Linked DNA regions of Homo sapiens: region 2 is linked to region 1. Evidence: fine-mapped expression QTL. A gene starts in region 1. The other region holds a variant in brackets. All regions are shown on one strand. Distances are from middle to middle.

The links.
Region 2: its variant is fine-mapped to the expression of KCTD11 in whole blood (TOPMed, PIP 0.93).

What each region holds. Positions count from the first base shown.
Region 1 is chr17:7,350,052-7,355,418 of GRCh38, forward strand. It overlaps KCTD11 (potassium channel tetramerization domain containing 11), which reads left to right and starts at 2,111. Exons shown (of 1, transcript NM_001363642.1): 1 at 2,111-4,893. The coding sequence starts at 2,775. The coding sequence ends at 3,590. It overlaps ACAP1 (ArfGAP with coiled-coil, ankyrin repeat and PH domains 1), which reads left to right. Exons shown (of 22, transcript NM_014716.4): 19 at 1-3; 20 at 76-186; 21 at 899-948; 22 at 1,244-1,426. The coding sequence ends at 1,344. TMEM95 (transmembrane protein 95) reads left to right here and starts at 5,105. Exons shown (of 7, transcript NM_001320436.2): 1 at 5,105-5,322. The coding sequence starts at 5,154. RefSeq lists silencers at 160-299, 1,180-1,239, 1,310-1,369, 1,420-2,189 and enhancers at 4,646-5,172, 5,173-5,367.
Region 2 is chr17:7,375,468-7,380,834 of GRCh38, forward strand. It overlaps a transcript of TNK1 not described here. Among named protein-coding and RNA genes, the nearest start is that of TNK1, 2.9 kb to the right of the region's middle. RefSeq lists an enhancer at 5,140-5,367. The variant A/G (reference allele first, on the strand shown) is at 3,181.

The sequences.
Region 1 (5,367 bases):
GGGGTAGGGATGATGGCATGGGGAGGAAGGCTGGGAGAAGTTGGGCGGCCGGCTGACCCTGGCTCTTCTCTCCAGGCTCGCCTGCCTGTTCCTGAAACGGGGAGCTGATCTGGGGGCTCGAGACTCTGAAGGCAGGGACCCTCTGACCATCGCCATGGAAACAGCCAACGCTGACATCGTCACCCTGTAAGAATGCCTGAAGGGGCGGGGCTGGCGCTGGGACTCCCCCCACCCCCGCCCACCCACGTTCGGGCGGGCGGGCGGGGCTGACGCCGAAACAGAAGCCTGTGCTGTGGGGCCTCGGAAAGGGGCTGGGCCAGCGCCGGGGCCAGGCTCGAGAAAGGCTGCGCGAAGTGTGCACTGGGACGTGGAGTAGAAGGCAGGCGGGAGGGCGGGCAGGGTGCAAGGATGCTTGGCCCACCCTGAGAGGCGTAATTCGCCCATCAACATTGCTGTCAGGCATCTTTTTAGCACTAGACGTGACCCCGGGGGTGGGGGCAGATGAACGGAACGCAACCCAGCTCAAAGGATGGGAAGTTGTGGGGGAGGTGAGGATAGTCTTTTTTTTTTTTTTTGAGACGGAGTCTCACTCTGTCGCCCAGGCTAGAGTGCAGGGGCGCGATCTCGGCTCACTGCAACCCCCGCCTCCCGGGTTCAAGCGATTCTCCTGTCTCAGCCTCCCCTGAGTAGCTGGGACTACAGGCGTGCGCCACCACCCCCGGCTAATTTTTTGTATTTTTAGTAGAGACGGGGTTTCACCATGTTGGCCAGGACGGTCTCGATCTCCTGACCTCGTGATCCGCCTGCCTCGGCCTCCCAAAGTGTTGGGATTACAGGCGTGAGCCACCGCGCCCGGCCAAAGATAGTGTCGTTCATTTCTTAATTCCCTCCTCTTCAGGCTACGACTGGCAAAGATGAGGGAGGCTGAAGCGGCCCAGGGGCAGGCAGGTAAAGAATACACCCACCCCACCCCCCAGGCCCAACACCTGAACTCTGGGCTTCTGGTCCACGGTGACCTCTCTCCCTAGTGCCCAGCTGCATTCATTCCGTTATTTAACAAATGCGTATTGGGCGCATGCGACGTGCCAGGCCCTGGCAAGGCATAGGTGCTGGCGCAGTGCCCGCGGCGCGCACGTTCCCACCCAGGCTCGGAGCGCGAGGTCCCCAGGTGGGCCCCAACCGCCGGATCCTGCCCTTCTGCACTGGGGCCCAGCCGCCTCCCGGCCTTTCCTCCCTCCCCCAGGAGATGAGACGTATCTTGACATCTTCCGCGACTTCTCCCTCATGGCGTCAGACGACCCGGAGAAGCTGAGCCGTCGCAGTCATGACCTCCACACGCTGTGACCCGAGGCCCACGGGGCCCGCGCCTGCCTCCCTTCCCCGCCACCGGGCCCTCTGCCATTAAAGCCTCCGTGCTTCGCTCTTCCCTTCTGGTTCACTTCTTGGGCGCCACCTTCGGGCCCGTAGGGTGTTGGGCGCTGCGGCTCCCGAGGTGCGGGGAGCAGCTGGGGGTTTGCGAGCTCCAGTCCAGCAAGGTGCGACTCCGGGGAGCGAGGCGGCAGCTTCGGCCGCGGCCTGAGCGCAGGGCGCTGCGGGGCGGGGGCTCTCGGGCTGGGGCGACGTGGCCAGCCCAGTCCTGCCGAGGGGTGGGGCTGGCCCTGGGGCTCGCTGGCCCCGCGCCGCCGCGGAGAGAGCGCGCCCGGGCCACCCCGGCTGGAAGGCATCCCCGGAATGCGGCGGCTCAGCACCCGCCCCCTCGGGAATTCCCCGGGGGAGCCGCTGGGAGGGACTCGGCTCCCGGGCTGGGCCGGCCGGGCCTCGGGCTCTGAGCGGTGGGATTAGAGGCTCCAGCCCCGCCGACTTGCAGACGTGAGATCGGGCACACCTGAGCGGCGGCGGGGCGGTCGTGGCCACATCCGGGGCGACGTGCCTGAGTCACCCCGTCCCGCCAGCGTCTGCCAGTCCAGCCAGTCCGCCCAGTCTCTCGCGTCCGAGACTCGCCTCCAGCCTCCCACCTCCGCCCGGGCCGCGCGAGCCTCGCGGGGGCGGGGGCGGGGCGCCAAGGGGCGGGGCTGTCTCTTAAAGGGCCCCGGGCCGCTGCCCTTAGGCCACTTCCTGGGGGCGGAGAGGACCTCAGCGGCTGCGGCGACACCCAGGGAAGGCGGCGCGGCCGGGTCCCGAAACTCCTGGCTGTTTCCATCAGAGCCCTCGGACACTCCCAGCCCGGGCTGAGCACGCATCGTCGCTCCCCGGCGGATACAAGGGGGCTCCGCCATCCGCTCCCGTCAGTTCGGCCTCCATCTCCTGGGACCCGCGCCGGCAGCCAGGCCAGGCCTCTGAGTGGCCCCAGAGCCCTGGCTGGACTCGTCCACGGCGGCAGCGATCTGCCCGGGGTCTCGGAGGCCATCCCTTCAGAGTCGGCCCTGTGCTCGCCACCGTCACCTGCTGGTTGGATTCCGGAAACCCACTGTCTGAAGACCACAGAGGGGTGTCGCTGACCACCCCAAATCGGATACGTCCAGACCTCAAGCTCCCTTCCCCTCTCTGGCTGCCCTCTGCTCTTTTCATCTCTTCTCTCAACCTTTTGGGGATTTCTGTGTCCTGACACCACCTCCCCATCCACCACCAAAGTAGCCGGGGTGAGCCCCAAACCTTACTGGGTGTGCTCCACCTGTGCCTCCAACCCAGCGAATCTGACAGCTTCGACCCAATTCTGCACACACCCAGGAAGTTCTGCCTTTTCTTTTCTTTCGGTGTCTCCTGTACTTCCCAAAATTTCTCCTCCTCCTGTGCCCTCTTCGCCCCCCTCCTTTGGGGGCCCCGTGACCCTGAATGTGGGGGGCACACTATATTCCACCACTTTGGAGACCCTGACCCGCTTCCCAGACTCTATGCTGGGGGCCATGTTTAGGGCCGGCACCCCCATGCCCCCCAACCTCAATTCCCAAGGAGGCGGCCACTACTTCATCGACCGGGATGGCAAGGCCTTCCGGCACATCCTCAATTTCCTGAGGCTGGGCCGCCTGGACCTGCCCCGTGGGTACGGAGAGACAGCGCTGCTCAGGGCAGAGGCTGACTTCTACCAGATCCGGCCCCTCCTGGACGCGCTGCGGGAACTGGAGGCCTCTCAGGGGACCCCTGCACCCACAGCTGCCCTGCTCCACGCAGATGTAGATGTCAGCCCCCGCCTGGTGCACTTCTCTGCTCGCCGGGGACCCCATCACTATGAGCTGAGCTCCGTCCAGGTGGACACCTTCCGAGCCAACCTTTTCTGCACCGACTCTGAGTGTCTAGGTGCTTTGCGGGCCCGATTTGGTGTGGCCAGTGGGGATAGGGCAGAGGGGAGCCCACATTTTCATCTGGAGTGGGCCCCCCGCCCCGTGGAACTCCCCGAGGTGGAGTATGGGAGACTGGGGCTGCAGCCGCTGTGGACTGGGGGGCCAGGAGAGCGGCGGGAGGTGGTGGGCACCCCAAGCTTCCTGGAGGAGGTGCTGCGGGTGGCTCTCGAGCACGGCTTCCGACTAGACTCTGTCTTCCCCGACCCCGAAGACCTGCTCAACTCCAGGTCTCTGCGCTTTGTCCGGCACTGAGGATGCTGTTCTCAGTTTGACTGTGGGGAGGAGAGAGAATGGGGTACTAGCACCCCTGAAGCCTCTTTCCAGCTCTGCTTCAGGAGCTATGAGAGTCGGGACTCTCCTGCACCTGACTGGAGCTCAGATGTGGGCAGGAATTCCCAAACCTGAGCCCACCAAGGACTCACAAGTGGTCCAGAAGGTCTCAACCTGTGCTGACCCTGGGAGGGGTAGGGAAGGTTCTCTCAGCTTGTTCTTGCCTAAGGCTGAGCACCTCCAGTCTCTCCTTGATTTGGAGCTCAGTGTTTAAGGGCTTGGAAAAGGGGGGAACATCTCTTTACCCAGACTAGACCTAGCAAAACCCTGGAAGGATATTGAGGTCTGGGGAAAAGGGAGGACTTTGCATTTTCCCAATGCGGTCTCTTGGACCATGGCTTCTACTCCTGAAGCTGGGTGGCCTGGCCTGGCCTGACCAATGAGAGGCCAGAACACTCTGGAACATCGGAAGAGGAGTTCTTTGCTATGTTCCAAGCCATCTACTGAGGGAGGCAGAAAGGCCACAACCCACCCTAGGTTGATGTATGGGAGCTAGGACAGTCCCCATGGCAATGGGGCTGGAGCATCCCTCATCTGGAAGAATCCCATACTGATGGCAGGGCTGGCCAGGGGGAAGAGGGTAGTATCTGTGGGTCCTGGCCTTTCTTCATGTGTGCGTGCATATCAGCCCGTGTGGCTGACTGATGTATAGGTCCCTGGCATCCTGGTTCATATCTGTGTTGCTGACTACAGTGTCTGTGATGTCCGCATGTCCAGGCCTGTTTGGGGTTGCCTAGCGACTCTTCTGGCACAGGGTGTGTCTGTGGTATACCTGTGAGGTGGTTGACAATTAGTAGTTTAATCACAGGGTGTGTGTGTGTGTGTGTGTGTGTGTGTTTATGTGCACGCATGTATATGCATCACCACGTAGCCAGGAGGGGCCTGTTGGGGTTTGAGTCACTGGGATCTTCCTGGTGAGAGGTAAGAGAAGTCACTGGGCTTAGCTGGGCCTCTGAGGCCTGTATGGAACTCTTGGTTGCTGAGGCAACCATGGACCTGTTGCTAGGAGATAGCTGGGGAAGGCCCAAGGCCGCCCAGGGCAGAGAGAGGAGACGAAGAGTTTGGGACAGTGGGGGAGGAGATGGGAAGGGATGGGATTTCTGGGTCCCAGAGCGGGTGGGATACTCACGCACAGCTTCTTCACTGGTGGGGGGTGGGGCACACATTATTTCTCACTGGTCATGATTTACAAGAAGAAAAATAAAACTGCTTTTGGAACCACAAACTTGTGAAGGCTGTTGAGGGCCAGGTTGGGGGTGCTGTCCCCTCACAACAGAAGCCCTGCTTTCTCTGCCCATCGCCTGCTGGAGATGCCTTCTGGACCCCAGTTCCTTGAGCCCCAGCTTTACCCCAGCTGAGGATGGGCAGTGCCATTGTTCATTGTTCTGGAACATTCTAGAACCTCCAGGCAAGGGCTGGAGCCAGGGCTGCAGAGCATTCCTCGGCTCAGCTGGGGCAGCGCCGCCCCATCCCCCAGTGGTCCTCATGTGGAGGCTGGCACTAGGCGGGGTTTTCCTGGCAGCCGCCCAGGCTTGTGTCTTCTGTCGCCTCCCAGCCCACGACTTGTCAGGCCGCCTGGCTCGGCTCTGCAGCCAGATGGAGGCCAGGCAGAAGGAATGTGGGGCCTCCCCAGACTTCTCGGCCTTTGCCTTAGGTAGGACCAGACATCCAGGGATGGGCCCAGCAAGCACTCACCCCC
Region 2 (5,367 bases), 25 kb after region 1:
GTATGGTGGCTCGCACCTGTAGTCCCAGCTACTCGGGAGGCTGAGGCAGGAGAATCATTTGAACCCAGGAGATGGAGGTTGCAGTGAGACAAGATGGCACCACTTCACTCCAGCCTGGGCGACAGAGTGAGACTTTGTCTCAAAAAAATTTTTTCTTGGCCAGGCACGGTGGCTGACACCTGCACTTTGGGAGGCCGAGGTGGGTGGATCACCTGAGGTCAGGAGTTCGAGACCAGCCTGGTCAACATGATTAAACCCCGTCTCTACTAAAAATACAAAAAATTAGCTGGGCATGGTGGCACATACCTGTAATTGCAGCTACTCAGGAGGCTGAGGCAGGAGAATCGCTTGAACCCAGGAGGCAGAGGTTGCAGTGAGCCGAGATGGCACCACTGCACTCCAGCCTGGGCAACAAGAGCAAAACTCCGTCTCAAAAAAAACCTTTTTTTATTTTAATAAATAAATGAAATGAAATGGTAAAACCACTTTGGAAAACAGTTTTTTTGGTTTCTTAAAAAATTAAACATACCTGGCCAGGTGCGGTGGCTCACGCCTGTAATCTCAGCACTTTGGGAGGCCGAGGCAGGCGGATTATGAGGTCAGGAGATCGAGACCATCCTGGCTAACATGATGAAACCCCGTCTCTACTAAAAAATACAAAAAAAAATTAGCTGGGCATGGTGGTGGGCACCTGTAGTCCCAGCTACTTGGGAGGCTGAGGCAGGAGAACGGCATGAACCCGGGAGGCTGAGCTTGCAGTGAGCTGAGTTGGCACCACTGCACTCCAGCCTGGGCGACAGAGCGAGACTCTGTCTCAAAAAAAAAAAAAAAAATTAAACATACTAATTTTATGACCCAGACATTCCACTCCTAGGTATTTACCAAAGACAAAGGGAAACATATGTCCACACAAAGACTTAAAGAGAGTGGTCACAGCAGCTTTATTCATAATGGGCGAAAACTAGAAACAACCCAAATGTTTATCAACAGGTGAATGTATAAACAAATTATGATACATCCATACAATGGAATACTACTCGGCACTAAAAGGGGATGAATACTGATGATACATACAATATCATGAATGAATCTCAAAATAGTTATTCTGAGTAAAAGAAGGCAGGCAAAAAAGAATGCATACTGTAGGATTCTATTTACATAAACTTCTAGGAAATGCAAGCTAGTCTAGAGTGACAGAAACAGATCAGTGGTTGTCTGAGGAACGAGGGGCAGAAGAGATTACAAAGGGACATAAGGAAACTTTAGGGGTGGCAATATGTTCATTACTGTGGTTATGGTGATGGTTTCATGAGTGCACACATTTGTCAAAACTTATCAAATCACAAGCTTTAAATATGGGCAGTTTATTGAATGTCAATTATACCTCAATAAAGCTGTAAAAAAAAAACTCCAGTGGATAAAAATAATTCATATATCCATCATTAGGATACTAGATTTGAAAAGTAATATATTTATATAATGAACTACTACTTCATAATAAAAAATAACTACTAATATACACAACAGCATAGATGAATCTCAAAAAGATTATGGTGAGTGAAATAAGCCAAAAACAAAAAAACTGAATAAGCACTCCATTTATAAGATCTAGAGCAGGTAAAGTGATCATTGTTTTTTTTTTTTTTAATCCTTTTTGTGTGTGTGTGGGTGGGGGCGGGGTGAATGGAGTCTTACTCTGTCACCAGGCTGGAGTGCAGTGGTGCAATCTCAGCTCACTGCAGCCTCCGCCTCCTGGATTCAAGTGATTCTCCTGCCTCAGCCTCCCAAGTAGCTGGGATTACAGGCACATGCCACCATGCCCAGCTAATTTTTGTATTTTTAGTAGAGATGGGTTTTTACCATGTTGGCCAAGATGGTCTCGATCTCTTCACCTCATGATCCGCCCGGCCTCCCAAAGTGCTGGGATTACAGGTTGAGCCACCGAGCCCAGCATTTTTTTTTTTTTTTTTTTTTTTTGAGACAAAGCCTCACTCTGTTGCCCAGGCTGGAGTGCAGTGGCATGATCTCGGCTTACTGCAACCTCTGCCTCCCAGGTTGGAGCAATTCTCCTGCCCCAGCCTCCCACGTAGCTGGGATTACAGGCGCCTGCCACCATGCCTGGCTAATTTTTGTATTTTTAGTAGAGACAGGGTTTCACCATGTTGGCCAGGATGGTCTTGAACTCCTGACCTCAGGTGATCCACCTGCCTCGGCCTCCCAAAGTGCTGGGATTATAGGCGTGAGCCACCGCGCCCGGCCAGATCATTGGGTTTTAAAAATCAGAGTAGTAGTTCCTTCTGGGGGATGAAATTGACTAAAAATAGACACAAGGGAACTTTATGGGATGAAAGAAATGTTCTGGATCTTTAGCCACATTAATAGATGTGTACATTTGTTGAAATTCATCATATTATACAGTTAAATGTGTACATGTTACTGACTATAGATTATATCTCAGTAAAATAGTGTAATGAAGTAGAGTAGGGGCCGGGCGCGGTGGCTCATGCCTGGATTCCCAGCACTTTGGGAGGCTGAGACAGGTGGATCACGAGTTCCGGAGTTCAAGACCAGCCTGGACAATATGGTGAAATCCCGTCTCTACTAAAAAAATACAAAAATTAGCCAGGCATAGTGGCAGGCGCCTGTCGTCCCAGCTAATCAGGAGGCTGAGGCAGGCAACTGCTTGAACCCGGGAGGTGGAGGTTGCAGTAAGCCGAGATTGTGCCACTGCACTCCAGCCTGGGCGACAGAGAGACTCTGTCTCAAAAAAAAAAAAAAAGAAAGAAAGAAAGAGAGAGAGAAAGAAAGAGAGAAAGAAAGAAAGAAAGAAAGAAAGAAAGAAAGAAAGAGAAAGAAAGAAAAAGAAAAGTAGAGTAGGGCCAGGCATGATGATGGCCCACGCCTGTAATCCCAGCACTTTGGGAGGCCGAGGTGGGCAGATCACAAGGTCAGGAATTTGAGACCAGCCTGGCCAACATGGTGAAACCCTGTCTCTACTAAAAATACAAAAATTAGCTGGGCGTGGTGGTGCGGCTGTAATCCCAGCTACTCCAGAGGCTGAGGCAGGAGAATCGCTTGAAACCGGAAGGCGGAGGTTGCAGTGAGCCGAGATCGTGCCACTGTACTCCAGCCTGGGCAAAAGAATGAAACTCCGTCTCAAAAAAAAAAAAAAAAGAAAAG[A/G]AAGTAGAGTAATTTTCGGCCGGGCACGGTGGCTCACGCCTGTAATCCCAACACTTTGGGAGGCTGAGGTGGGCGGATCACCTGAGGTCAGGAATTCAAGACCAGCATGATGGCGGGTGCCTGTAATCACAGCTACTTGGGAGGCTGAGGCAGAAGAATCGCTTGAACCTGGGAGGTGGAGGTTGCAGTGAGCCAAGATTGCACCACTGCACTCCAGCCTGGGCTACAGAGCGAGACTTGTCTCAAAAAAAGGAAAAAAAGTAGAGTAATTTTTTTTTTTTCTCTGTCACCCAGGCTGGAGTGCAGTGGCACAATCTCGGCTCACTGCAAGCTCCACCTCCTGGGTTCACGCTATTCTCCTGCCTCAGCCTCCCGAGTAGCTGGGACTACAGGCGCCTGCCACCAGGCCCGGCTAATTTTTTTGTGTGTGTGTATTTTTAGTAGAGACGGGGTTTTCACCGTGTTAGCCAGGATGGTCTCCATCTCCTGACCTCGTGATCCACCCGCCTCAGCCTCCCAAAGTGCTAGGATTACAGGTGTGAGCCACTGTGCCTGGCCAAGTAGAGTAATTTTCATATGAGTATAACAACAACCAAAAAATAAAATTAAAAAACCCTTCCATGTAAGGATTAAACAGCACATCAGATGTAACCAAAGAGAGAATTAGTGAACTGGAAGACAGACTGGAAGAGATTACCTGAATGTATCACCAAGACACAAAGAGATGAAAGATACAGGAGACAGGTTAAAAGACACAGAGTACAGAATGAAAAGGTCTAGAACACTCCTAATCAGAGTTGGCAAAGGAGAGAGCACAGAGGACAGAGGAAAAATAATATCTGGATGGTTTCTGAGAACTTTCCAATATGATAAAATACGATAAAAGATGTGAATTCATACATACAGGAAGTACAACATATTGAGCAGAATAAATAGAATAAATAAACATCTAGATACATTGTGACAAAACTACAAAACACCAATGATATCTTAAAAGCAGGGAGTAAAAAGAGATCATCTACACAACAATGAGGATTAGACTGAGGAGACTTCTTTACAACCAACATGTATCAGGCCTATTATATGCCCACACTGTCCTAGGTACTTAGAACACAAGTATGAACAAGCCAGGCCCAGCCCCTACCCTGTGGAGCTACAGAACCTCTAACAGGGATCGCAGATGTGCAGTAACAATTATAGTGTGATGAGCGATCCTGGTTGGAGGGCAAAAGAATCGGCAAGAAAACAATACCATAGAACAGCATTATGAAGATTTTCCTATCCCACGTAGGATCCACACAGGGACTGGCCCCCAAGCACAGATCCTTGCTGGCAGCCTGAGAGTCACTCGGTCTAACTTGGTTTCAAGGCAACTCCACCAGCCTTTATTAAATAAGGCTCTGGGTCTCTGGGTACTGGCTGCCTGCTCACACTTTCCCTTACAGACATCTGGACCCCTCCCTTACCCCACATTATAAGCAAGGAGGAAGAAGAGGACCCGAGGCTGGGAAACGTGGAGGTGGCAGTTGGGATCAAACATCCTACATGTTTACCAAGACCAGGAGGGCTTTTCCCTCCAAGGGACCCTTGGGACAGCAGCTGCTATGTTCACGCGTCCTTCCTTGGGACAGGGGACAGACTAGATGTCCTAAGACTGGCAGCTTCCTCTCTGGGACCCCTGAGAGAAGCGGAGACAAATGGTCCTCCTCAGGGCCTTCTTCAAGGTCCTGGACTTAGTCCCAGTGGCCACAGGCTAGGTAGCAGTGTGCAGGGCCCTGAGTTCTGCAGAGCTTGCATGGAGAGCAGGCGTTACGCTGGAAGGAAGCCCAGGAGTGTCAGTAATGGGGAAGCGTGCCCTGAGGCATGGAATGCTGCCGGTGATCAACAACAGCTTCAACTGTAGACTCTGTCTAGGCCAGGGCCAACTCTCCGTACCAGCATCAACATCTCTCTGCCCTGGCCCCATTCCAGGGTTCATTAAGTAAAGCCTGCTAGGAAGCTCTGAACCCCCTGCCATGGGGCAGGAACTGTGTCCTATTTAGCCTTATATTCCCTGTGCGTGGACAGGATAGCTCTATCGGGCGCTTATTCATGTAAGAGGTAGGGTCCTGGCTGAGAGGTGAAGGATTTGGCGAGAGGGCATGGGGGACAGAGACAGAGGAGTGAAGTCTGGGGAGGGCTGGGAAG